Linked DNA regions of Homo sapiens: regions 2 and 3 are each reported to be linked to region 1. Evidence: microRNA targets listed by miRTarBase, many of them from high-throughput screens and not tested one by one. Region 1 holds a microRNA gene; each other region holds the end of a gene's coding sequence.

Evidence for each region. The annotated mature microRNA hsa-miR-223-3p reads UGUCAGUUUGUCAAAUACCCCA and lies in region 1 at 2,184-2,205, opposite strand. An mRNA with a match to its seed (bases 2 to 7 or 8) in the 3' UTR can be bound and repressed. Matches are read on the target gene's strand: a 7mer-m8 pairs with bases 2 to 8, a 7mer-A1 pairs with bases 2 to 7 and ends in A, and an 8mer does both.
Region 2: miRTarBase lists NFIA as a target of hsa-miR-223-3p. Seed matches in the 3' UTR shown: 8mer at 1,115-1,122 and 7mer-A1 at 1,689-1,695.
Region 3: miRTarBase lists NMNAT2 as a target of hsa-miR-223-3p. The part of its 3' UTR that is shown has no 7-base or 8-base seed match.

Annotation. Positions count from the first base shown.
Region 1 is chrX:66,016,990-66,021,141 of GRCh38, reverse strand. It overlaps MIR223 (microRNA 223), which reads right to left and starts at 2,272; the gene lies at 2,163-2,272. MIR223HG (MIR223 host gene) reads right to left here. Exons shown (of 3, transcript NR_170299.1): 2 at 3,953-4,077; 3 at 716-2,318.
Region 2 is chr1:61,455,017-61,459,016 of GRCh38, forward strand. It overlaps NFIA (nuclear factor I A), which reads left to right. Exons shown (of 11, transcript NM_001134673.4): 11 at 287-4,000. The coding sequence ends at 304. Among named protein-coding and RNA genes, the nearest start is that of NFIA-AS1, 200 kb to the left of the region's middle.
Region 3 is chr1:183,249,344-183,253,343 of GRCh38, reverse strand. NMNAT2 (nicotinamide nucleotide adenylyltransferase 2) reads left to right here. Exons shown (of 11, transcript NM_015039.4): 11 at 601-4,000. The coding sequence ends at 703. It also overlaps a transcript of LAMC2 not described here. Among named protein-coding and RNA genes, the nearest start is that of LAMC2, 65 kb to the right of the region's middle.

The DNA of each region.
Region 1 (4,152 bases):
ACCTTTAAATCAGGCTCCGCTGTGAGGACCTGTTCTGACCCAGGTTGACACAGTTTTATTTTCTCGATGTAATTAATGTCAAATCAACTTCTGCACTCTTCAAGGAAGCTGCCATGTTGCTATTTCTGGTTCCCATGCAGCCCCTAGGTCAGCTCATGTTTCACAAGGAGCTGCTCCCCTTTTGCAATGATTACAGAAGTCAAAATAGTACACGAAAGTAACAAAAAGGAGTCCTCCACTTCACCGCCACCCAACATGCCAAATCCAGGGTAAAAACCTCAACATTTTCCTCATTCCAGACGCTAGCTTCTCCTAGTTGGCGAAAGGAACAACTCTTTCTTCCCCATCGTGCTTACAAGCCTCTGAAATAGGGCCTCCACCCAGTGGAAACCCCAACTTCCTTCATGAAACAACTCTGCGTCCAGACCCTACAGCCTTTGAAAATACCCATTATCTTTCCCTACTACCCATAGAAAAAGTGAGTTTTAGGTGTTGGGAAGAGAATCCTGGTTGCATTTTCACTGGTAAAAGGAGCCACACATCCAGGGACGCTGCTCCATAAGAGCTAAGGACTCCCAGGGATATCTCAAAGTCATTAATCTTAAAGAGCCTAGAGATCACTGATTCTAATACTTCCGTATTGGAGATGAGAAAATGAAGCTCAGAGAGGAACAAAAACACAGTTAGTGGTAGAAAGGAGACCAAAAGTCAGGCCTGTGAACTCCTCAGTGCATATATTTATTGCAGCATCTGGATCTTCTTTGCCTCAAAACTTAGAATATTTTTAAATACAGGACAAGCTAGTAAAGAATTCCTATGTAATAAAGATAGTCCACAGCTGCAGAGGCTAAACAAAAATGAGATGATAACATGTGACCTTTCTTAGGCAGATGGCTGGTTGGGGAAAGTAGATGAATGAAAAGAGGAAAAGATCTCCAGAAGAGCGGGAAGGTATAAAGTTTCTCTAGGACAGTTTCCCAAATCGTGCTTCATTGGACATTGACACAGGAGAAGGCTGTGGGGGAAAAGAAAATTCATGATCAGATAGGTATGGCAAATGCCTCATTCTATGGTTTCCTCTTTGAGATTCTCAATGCAACATTAGACTATTAAAGGCTCTGAAAAATCCTACAAGAAAACACCTGTATAACCTTGTGTGACCAAGTAATACCAAAATTTATTTGCCCTCTGAGTCTGCTATTTTGCCCTCTTCCTCCAGCCCTTGACACTGTTTCTCAGGAAGAAAACATCCTTCATGCTGGCTACTACCTCATATGCTCTATAACATTGTGGTGTTCACAGTTTGAATTTTTCAAAATCCAGGGTAGAATTTGGCCCCCAAACCTAAAGCTAGTGGACAAGAGGAAAGTCAATCAATCAGTAAATATTTATTATTTTCTGTAACTAAAGTACTGGGCTGTGGTAGGGGAGACAACAATCAAAGACATAGCCTTGTCTTCCAGAAGCTCACAATCTAGTTGGGAATTCAAGAATACCCCTTAGAAAAGTTCATTGACAATTTACGAGGTGCTATTAGACAGTAGGAGAGAAAGGCATACATACCAGGGCCCAGGGAAGAAGAGCTTTGTGAATGAAGAAGGAAAAAGTGTAAGTTGACTTTCAAAAGTCTCTGGAAACACTGGACTTTAGCTGGTCCAGGAAATATAGGGAAGAATTGGATAGGCAGGAATAAATGGAGAAAGTGTTCCTACAGGAAAAGACATGTGGAAAAGGGGAGAGGTAGGCAAGATCAAGGAGTGTTTAGAAGGCAAGACTGAGTATCAAGAAAGTGAATTTCTAAGCCCTGCTTACTCAGATAAGCCATTAGGCTTGTGTGAGAATGCTGATGTCCTAGATAGGAGACTCTGGGAGGGGAATATGAAGGAAGAAAATAATAATGAATCAAAGAGCACTTCCATTCCTGGACACTTTATACATTTTCAAGACTATTGCGCCCCCATCAGCACTCTCATGGTGTGTGTAGACACAGCCCAGGGCTGTATTTCCCTGAGATGCCACACTTTTCCCCTGGTGTCCTCAGATATAATGCCTCAGTTCCTGCAAAGTCACATAAAATAACTTGTGAGAACTTGGTGCTTGGTGAGCATCCTTGTATCCAGCTGGCAGTCCATTCGTCATATCCCATCTGCCCTGGCCTAGAGCTGGTAAGCATGTGCCGCACTTGGGGTATTTGACAAACTGACACTCTACCACATGGAGTGTCCAACTCAGCTTGTCAAATACACGGAGCGTGGCACTGCAGGAGGCCAGGCCAAGAGCTTCTGTGGGGAAGTGAGATCTTCCTGGGAGATGTGACCCTAGAGGGAAAGAGAGAGAAAGGAATGATGAAGTCACACCCTTAGCCCCGGGGATCTTGCTCAAAGGACCAACCAAAGCACCAGAATAGGGAAGTGAGCAAAATAGGCATAGGGTTCCTAACCAGAAGAGAGATCCTGAAGATAAGCAGGTAAAGCCCGAGTGACACCCAGTGCTCAGCTGGAAGCTCATCAGGCCTGAGTCCTGTAGCTATGGCATTTCTAGGGGTCCCAAGCTTCAGTGGGTTCCTCTATGCAGCAGAGAGGGGAAAATTTGGTCATCATCCTGCCTCCCTGACTTGAGGAAAGTACCAGACCCTAGAGTCAGCATCCTTGCTCCCTCTTCTCAATTCTCCCAAGCTGTGTTTTCAGTGTTGTGGTTATGCACATAGGCTTTGAGGTTAAACATGAGCTTAAATCCTAGTTCTTCCATTAGCTAGTTAGGCAACCTTGGATACATCATTTCACCTCTCTGAGCTCAAGTTTTCTACACCCACAAAATGTATGTAAGTATAATACCTACCTCATAAGGTTATTGTGAGAATGACAGGAGATAATGCATGTAAAGCCTTTGGTTCAGTATTCAATACATAACAAATGCTCAAAAAGTAGTGGTTGTGTGACCAAAATGAAAGAAAGAGCTATTGGCAATTGATTTAGCAGGATCTGGACAGGTGTGACATTGATTTCTTGTGGTCTCAGCCTTGCCTAACATGATCCTCTTGTCCCATAGGGACTCAAGAATGGCAGCTATTAAAGTGCCCTTAAAGATCATCTAGTCTCACTCACTTAGGTTATAAATGAGATAACAAAGGCTCCTGTTGGGGAGGAGACTTGTAAAGTTTATACAATAAATTTTTTACAGTTCAGCAGTATGCCTTATACAGCTTTCCTCATTGGTTATTTTGCCTCCCTTCTCTGTATATCCCTCTGGGAAAGGGAAGACACATCAACAAAGAGGGCAAAAACAGGCAATAGCTTTGTAATGCAACATTTGGGATCACTGAACCCACAAGCCACCAGGGCAATAAGGAAGCTGCCAGGAGCAGGGTCAGGTCTGAAACTTCTGGGAGAATTCCCTTGGCAACAATCAGATCCTGTTGCTAAAAATCCCAGGTTGCTGGTGTCAAATTACTGCCCTTACCAGCTGTGGCAGTTGATCTGTGAGCAGGTAGCTGGTCTACATTAAATATTGTCATGAAAAGTGGCAAACATCACAAGGTTACCAGAAATGGTAAACTGCCCCCATGAGGCCGGAAAGCCCTGTCCCAGCCCAGGTAAGACAGAGGGATTCAGCCTTGTCTTTCAGCAAGAAAACAATCAGTGTCTTTTCTTGCTCTATTCTTTTAATTGAATGTTAAGAAGGTAACATACTCCTTCAATTTAAGTTCTGGCAGTCATCTCAAAACTAAAGCTCTTTCACTCCCTCACTTCCTTTTCTACCTACCCAATTCAGCCTAATCCACCCAGCAGCAAAAGCAGCAGTCATGGTCACCAAATATGGCATGACAGAATCGACAAACTTGTGTTCTAATGCTGTCTTGGCCATCAACTAGCCAATCATGGCTTGGGCAAGTCTTTCTTTGGGTTTCAGTTGTCTTCTCTGGAAATGAGAACAAGGAGACTTACCTACTTACCTGGCAAAGTTGTTGGAAAGTGTTGCTAAGCTTTCCAGAGCCTCCCACATAGGAGCTCAAAAGGACCTTGTCTCAGCCCCTGGACCTATGGTTGGAGGCCAGCCAAGCAAGCTGATTAACAGAGTCTGAGTTGGGGATGGCAGGAGAAAAAGAAATGGATTGTTACCTTTTTTGTATCATTACACTCATTGGCTGTCAGC
Region 2 (4,000 bases), not on the chromosome of region 1:
AACAAAACCCTTATTTGTATTTCAAGTGAACAGAAATACCTCATTCTGTAAGATATACTCAGAATGTTGGAAAACCCCAATGAAGACAATGAATTATAATTTCAGAAGAATAAGATCAGTTTCAGTGTCACAGGATTTTTTATTGTCTGTCGTGCCTTTACTTTTCCCAGCGAATCCCTCCCGCATCCCTAACGTAGATCCTGATTTCGTGGTTGAAAAGGCAACTTCTAAAACACACGTTTTTACAAATTGTGATTTTAATTGTATTTTTCCTTTTGTCTTCCAGTCCTGGTACCTGGGATAAAAGTTGCAGCGTCCCACCATCCACCAGACAGACCACCTGACCCCTTCTCAACTCTGTAACATGGACGCAACCTCAACCCAGCGCAGTTACAACTTCACTATCAGCGGAAGGGGAGAAAAACCGATTCAAATCAACTTGTACATGGAAACAGCAAGCATTATGGTCAAACAGCAAAGGCCATAACCTTTTGGGATTTTTTTTTTTTTAAAATACTTTAGGGACTGTTGTAATTTCTCATATGGTGCTGGAAATGGTTGGGCTTTGTAACATTTGAAGTGTTTCCATGGTAGCGTGAGCATTAGGTGACGTGGCTAGCGGAGGACTACCCTTGCTCACTGACTTCCTGTTGTAACACACTTTCCTTACGGAGCCTGGCTGTTTCACAGTATTTCATGAATTTACCCACACAGGTGTGATCCTCCTTGAGCATTGAGGAGGCACATGGAGAACTAAATCTTTTGTAGTAGCTGAGATCTGCAATATATAACGGGACAGTCAAAGGGCAATGTTTTTCTGTAACATATTGGAAAAAGAAAATGCAGTTATATTCCTTTTTTATTTGTTCCTTTAGTTTGTTTTGGTTCAGCAGTCAGCAGTTAAGTATATAACATGGCCCGCAAGGACAATGAATCCACTCACATTGCAGAACAATTCCGAAAATGGCAAACTACTACTACTACTGTTCAGTTTTTTAAAAGTTTTGAAATGCTGCACTTACATTTAAAAAAACAACAACAACATTTTTTCAACAATTTCAACAATGACACAAAAATTCACATGGAAATGGGGAAGATGGTCTGTTTTGACAGAAACTGACAGGAATCAATCAAAACAATCGAATTTTGAATTGAGTAAAGTGCAATTTCATTGGATAGCTAAATATCTTTGTAAGATAGAGATTGTTGAAAATTCTATTTTTGTTTTTCTAGTCCTTTCACCCCAGGACTCTAAATTATTGGGGTAAAAAACAGCCTTGCAAGAAAAAGGGGAGCTATTTTTGCTTTTTATGTTTTTTATTGTTAAACTTGTATCCCTTTAAAAACTGAAGGAAATTAAAAAAAAAAAACAAAAAAACAAATCTAATGGTGCTTTTACCACAATATGTTAACTACATTAAATGCTAATTAATTATTTTCTGTTATCAAAGCACATGACTAAAATGAAATCATGGTATCTGTTAATTTTATAAGCTAGAAGTCACTATAATGGATTACGCCAATTCTAAAAAATTTTACACCTATCTGGCATCATAGGATTTATCAGTTATCAGACACCTCATTGTACCAGAGATTGTCCAGAAGTTTTAAAGACCTTTGCATCCCTGAACTGGGCTATGGGAAATAATAATAGTAATAATAATAATAATAATAATGATGAAACCAATACTGACACAAATGCTGGTGCCCATTCAGATCAAGGGTACTTGTTAGGGAAAAAAAAAAAAGTTTGCACCCCCAAACGTCCTGTATCTTATGAAAAAAAAAACAAAAAACAAAAACAAAAAAAAAACACAAAAAACCACAGAAACAAAAACAAAAAAAAGTGCAAGTGATTTTTCTACCAGACAGCGAAGCACCCCTTTGCTTCCCATGCGACTTCAAGAAGGTTTCCTATACTATACATATATATACGTTCTGGTTGGCAAGCCCTGCTGATCAGAGAAAGTCTCTGCATGTTCTAGTGTTAGTAACTAATTTTTATATAGTTAATGTAGGATAAAGTAGAGTGCATTAAGACACAATATTGTAATCCCTACTCTAGGCACTTGCCTTTAAACTATGTTTTTCAGCCCTTCAGAAGGGTTCTACTACTGTCCTATACAATCAAGTAACTGAAATTCTTGGGAAGACACTTTGCTCCTCATCTTTCTCCCCGAAACAATGTTGTTTTGTTTTGTTTTTTTTCCTTAATTTGCACGAAAACAAAAATTCCATATCAATGTGCCTTGCCCTGGATAGCGATTATTTGTGGAATTGTTGCACATGCTCCTCTATTGAAAGGGGTTTTTCCCTAGTCAAGCATTTGGAGACACTTTTTGTAAATGTGACTTTTATGTCAGCCATCGTCAGTTTCAACATCTAGAACTAAATAGAAAGCTAGTTGTTCCGCAGATAGGAGTAGTCTTTATTGTCCTGTACGGTCGGTGGCAGTGCTATTCTGAGATCTGTAGATGCTTAGAATATCAGTATTTTGGATGTTGCTGCATTTTACAATTTATTTGGAGTCTTCCTTTATTTTCCCCCAGATATATGAAAATATGCAATACCTGCTTATATCATGTAGAAAAGCTTAGCAATTATTAATTTTTCTTTTATTTTTTTTTATTTGACCAAAGTCGGTGCTGCACTTGACGCAGTGTGTTTTAGGTGTTTGTCTTTGTACTTTTTTGTGATTTTTGAATGCACGTGCGCAGGAAGGGCTCCTCTTAGAGAAGCAGTCAAACTGTGAAGCACTAAGCTGACCCTGCTTCAAGCAATTTTGTTTTTACAACTGTTCCTTTCACAAGCAAGCCTTAAAAAAAAAAAAGACAACTTCCTTTTTCTTCAGCTCCCACACCCCATTTTTCTTAGCAGACTGCAGTCAATCCACATTCAATAAAAAGTATATAATGCCCATTTTTATATGCACGTTTTTAAACTTCCAAGTTCTGAAAATTGTTTACTGGTTATCTCTATTTAAGGAAAAAAAAATAAAATAAAACATTTTGGATTTTCATATGTGTCTGATAAGTGGTTGAATAGTCGTTTGGCGCTGTTGTATGGTGTGATTGTCAGTGTATGGTGTCACTTCCTATAGCCAGCCAGCATACTTTGCCTTCCCCTATAGCACTTAGCTGGGCATTACTTTATTATGACATATGTGCACTAAAAAATGAAAAAAAGGAAAAAAAGAAAAAAAAAAAGAAAAAATAGCAGCTTTCAGTGCTTCACAGTGAAGGGAAAAAAGCCTAGACAAACATTTTGTCAGAACCTTGCAATAAGCCAAGGTATTACCAGTAAATTGGTTGTATATACAATAAAATTGCACCCTTTTTTAAACAAAACAAACTAAGCAATAGTTTGGGCAGTTTTAGTTGTTTTTAGTGAGCATGTTGTAGTCATGACTGCAAAGAGAGAGAATAAACTGCCCGCTCAGAAGATATGTAATTTGTATTGTTGTATAGTTTTATTGATTACACTGATTTATTCTACCCTATTTTATAATGCAGGACTTTTGTAATGTTGTTTAAATGAGGAAAAATTTCTGTCAAATTAGCCTAGTAAAATTTCTGATCGTTCATTATAAAGGCAGCGTTCATAGAATTGCTTTTCTTTCTTTTTACCCCCCCTTTGGGAACTGGATTTAAGTTTAAAACTTTCCTGTTTCCTTTTTTTTTTTTTTTTTGTAAGTATTTAAATACAATTATTTTTTTCTCTCAATGGTATAGCATATTCCTATGCTTGAGAAGTATAGGTCTACTGAAAAACCATTGTAAATGGACGTTACAGGTATGCTGTATTTTTGAAGGTATTTTGTTGTATTAAGTTTGATGAAGCTAAAATTAGGGAACTCTGAACAGATTTGCAGGAAAAAATGTTTTAAAGGCTTTAAAACATTAGGGAGGCAGTCTAGGGTGATAACGAACAGGGGTTAAGTATTAAATACACGAAGTTACATTTTTGTTCATGTTTCATTGTCCAGAAAGCAGCAGGAAAC
Region 3 (4,000 bases), not on the chromosome of region 1:
ATAATATAATATTAACACTTATATAAATAATATAATATAATATAATATTAACACTATTATATAAATAATATAATATAGTATAATATATAAATTATAAAATATATAATAAATATGTAATATAACATAGATATACTATATTATATGATGATAATATATGTGTATCTTACAACATCAGATTGTATGACTTAAATATACACAATACAATTTATTTGAGAAAAAAGAATAGTGAATACATTAGATGCCCACTGTGTGTCTGGCACTCTTCTAAGTGCTTTGCATAATGACTCATTTAATCCTTTGAATAACTAAATGAGAGGGGCCCAGATATTACCCTCATTTTACAGGAAAAAAACTGAAGAACAGAGGGGCTTAAATAACTTTCCCAAGGCCTCTCACCTAGGAAGTGGCAGAACCACGATGAATGATGTCACCAAGGTGGGGAAGGAGTTGTGGAGGCAAGAGGGCCTTTCCTAATACAGAACTATTTACTCAACCTGAGAAAAGGCTACAAATGGGGTGCTGGGGAGACAGGGGCATGCCAGTCCTCCTGACTTGCTTTGGGTGTGGATGTCCATCTGATTGTCATCTCTTCTTGTGCAGGCTGGCCCTGCAGCATGGGGACGGCCATGTTGTGGATTACCTGTCCCAGCCGGTCATCGACTACATCCTCAAAAGCCAGCTGTACATCAATGCCTCCGGCTAGCAGCCCCTCGTCCTCCGGCAACACAATGGCCCCTCCATCTTTGTCAGCCCCCTGTTTCTCTCCTGCCTCTCTGTTTCTCCATCTCCTCGTCTTGACTGTTTTCCCTACTTGCTGACTTAACCCCCCATAGTGTGGGGGACCTGCAGAGAACCATGGCATTCCCTATTCCACAGTCATCTTTGGACAGACTTTCCTCTAGTCTCCGGGTTGGGGGTGGGTGAGGGAATGGGGTGGGAGTCGGGGGAAGTGCAGTCCTTGGAGATGTACTGGTGTCCGTCTCCCAGCATGCTCTAGAGAGGCGGCTCTGGTGCCCATCCTCCCAGCACGCTCTGGGGAGGCGGCTCTGGTGCCCATCCTCCCAGCATGCTCTAGAGAGGCGGCTCTGGTGCCCCTCCTCCCAGCATGCTCTGGGGAGGCGGCTCTGGCTCTTGCCTTCCCAGCATGCCCTTTACTACAAAGGGCTATTTTTCTTTTCTTTCTTTTGTTTATTTATTTTTCTTTGTTCACTCCCTGTAGAACTTGGATGAAATCAGTGTCCATGGTTCTTTATGTTTGTAGTCTTGATGTGCTCCTGTGGTATTACTTCCCCTCTGATAGGACATTGTAGCCAGCCTCAGCACTCAGTGAGTTCATCAGGGCCACACCCAGTAGAGAAGGCCAAGCAACCTCCACTTCTTCAGCACCACACACACGCACACACACACACACGCACACATGCGTGTGCACCCGCGCACGCACATACACACACACATATAGCAGTAGCAGCAGCAGCAGCAGCAGCAGCAACCTTTGATCAGGAGTGAGATTTTCGGGTTCTGAAACCTGGGACACGAGTCTGTGAATAGTCGGTTTTCTCAGAATAATTTGAATCTGTTTTCTTAGTTTCAAATGACCATTTCCCTGATGCTCTGAGCTTATGATCACACAGAGCCAGTCCATCCTCATTTCCTGGTGGCATCTGTTCATTTACCTTTGTGGACTGTAGCTGATGGCACAGTGCGGGTTCCCTACCAGCCAGGGGTTTCCAAGGGACCTTTGGAGGCCATGCTTAGACACATTCCTGTACCTGAGAACAACCACATAGGCAGGACCAGATCCACATCGTGCAGTCGTGTCATAAAAAAACAAAACAAAACAAAAAAACACTAGGAGTCCACTCAACCCTGGAGGTCTTTGCTAATTGGAATTATGTATTGTCTGTTGGGCTGGGAAATGTCTCTTTCATATTGTAAGTCCAGGATGAACTAGGAGAAAGCAATTTGTTGCCCTGATGATAACTGATGATTTTCACCCTCTCTAGCTGAGGTAACTCAGACAGTGCATGAGGTCAGTTTCTTCTTGAGAAGCAGTGCCTTGGTCTTGTTTCTGTGGTTGGTTCTAGCCCCTGCAGAGCCTGGGAGCTGCAGGAACTGTCTGAGAAAATCTCCCTAATAGGGGAGTGGGTTCCCAGAAGGGAGATCTGGGAGGGGTCAGGAGCCACTAAGTTGCTTCACTCCTTTTTTCTCTAATTTTCTACCTTCCTCTCTGTTCCTGCAGACAGTTTTGCCAGCTTTGCTTCTGGTTACTAGGGTCTCATGCGTGTCCTGCTTGGAGAGCCATAAGGAAATTGCTGTCTTGTGCTTTGTGTCTCTCATCCAGTCTCTGGCTCTTGGGATTCTGGTCTTTGAGAAATAGTCCCTGAGTATTAGGATACTTTTATCAAAATCTAGTACCAGCTACGGCCAGAAAGGGCCAGGTGGGACCTGAAAGCAAAGACAATGTTCTTTACCACACGTTTCACATCTGCAACATCCTTCAATTGCGGGAAAAGGAACTTGATTTAACAGAAGAACATGGTAGAGCAGCATCCAGAAAGTCTGTTATTCCTCTTGGATTTTTTGAAATAATCTTCAGAGGAAGGAAGGAAAATCCTATTTTGGGGTATCAGTGTTTGACTAGGGATCATGAAATAATAAACTGAAAAAAACTTTAGAGTTCAGTTGATCCAACACTTTCCTTTAAAAGTTGAGGGAGCAGAGGCCCATGGGATTAAATGGCTGGTCCAGGTCAGCCAGCAGGTGTAGGGCCTGACAAGAACATATTGTTTCCCTGACCCCTAGGCCGTCACACCACACCCTCCATTTCCTCATGTTGCTGACCAGGTGCCCATATGATTTCTACACTTCCCAAGCCTTACCCTGGCATCTTTCTTTTAAATTATATCTGTCCCAGGTGCTCTCCACACATAGGATGGTAATGCCAGTCCCAGGGGAGGGTGTGATAGTAAGGAAGGCCACTGTTAGGTTTCCTTTAGAAATAAAGAGATCTCAGCAGCTTGGAAGAAATCCCAGAAGCGGACTCCATCAATCCAAGAAAGAGTTGCTTTGTGGAAGGTGAAGGAAGACCCACAGAGTGCTCAGGATGATGCTATTGCTGGAGAGCGAAAGATGGAACAGCCTTGTCCAGGCAGAACAGTCATAAGCCAGGAAATGAAACAAAGGAAAACAGGTGCCTGAATTTCCTGGGGAAACATGGCTTGTTTAAGGACTTGGAGTTATGGATGGAATTTATGGGACCCACGTGAGCAGACCTGAGGAAGGCTCGATTTCTTTTGTTTCTTGGTCCACTCTGTCACTCTGCTCTGGTCAAGCCCCATTTGGTCTACAGCCCATGAGAAGGAATGAGGCTGGTTCTGCACTCTCAGCATGCAGTCCGAAAGCATGTGGGAGTGGGGAGGGAAAGTGAGATGAATTAAGACAAAGAACAGGTGCCATAGAAGTAGATTTCTAGGAATGAAGTGGGGCAGATCTTATCTTTGTGGATTACAGGCACTGTACTAAAAACAGGTTTCCTATTTAATATAAAAAGAAAGTGAATCTTCTTTTGGATAGAATCATCCATTCCCATCGCCGCACCCCCTACCCCCCAAACACACACACACACACACACACACACACACACACACACACACACACACACGCCCTACTCTTCATTTGCTAGGGGAAGGTCACAGCACAACTAAATCCAGGACAGGACATTGTGACCATGACCCAGCCACAGTCAATACCAGAAAGATGATTCAGAGTCTGAAGTGGTGCCCCAGGTGCCAACAGGATAACCTCTACCCCCCGACTTTGTCTCTGGGGTCCTGTTCCTTCCTGCAAAGCCCAATCCAAGACTGGCATGGCTCAGAGGTTGTGAGAAAGGCATGGACTGGAACAATCATGTCCAGAGGGGTCTGGAGCTTTGTTTCCTGTTCACCAGCAAAAAATGTCTCTCCCATTTTTCTGAAAGTGGCTGATGTAAGAACAGGCAGAA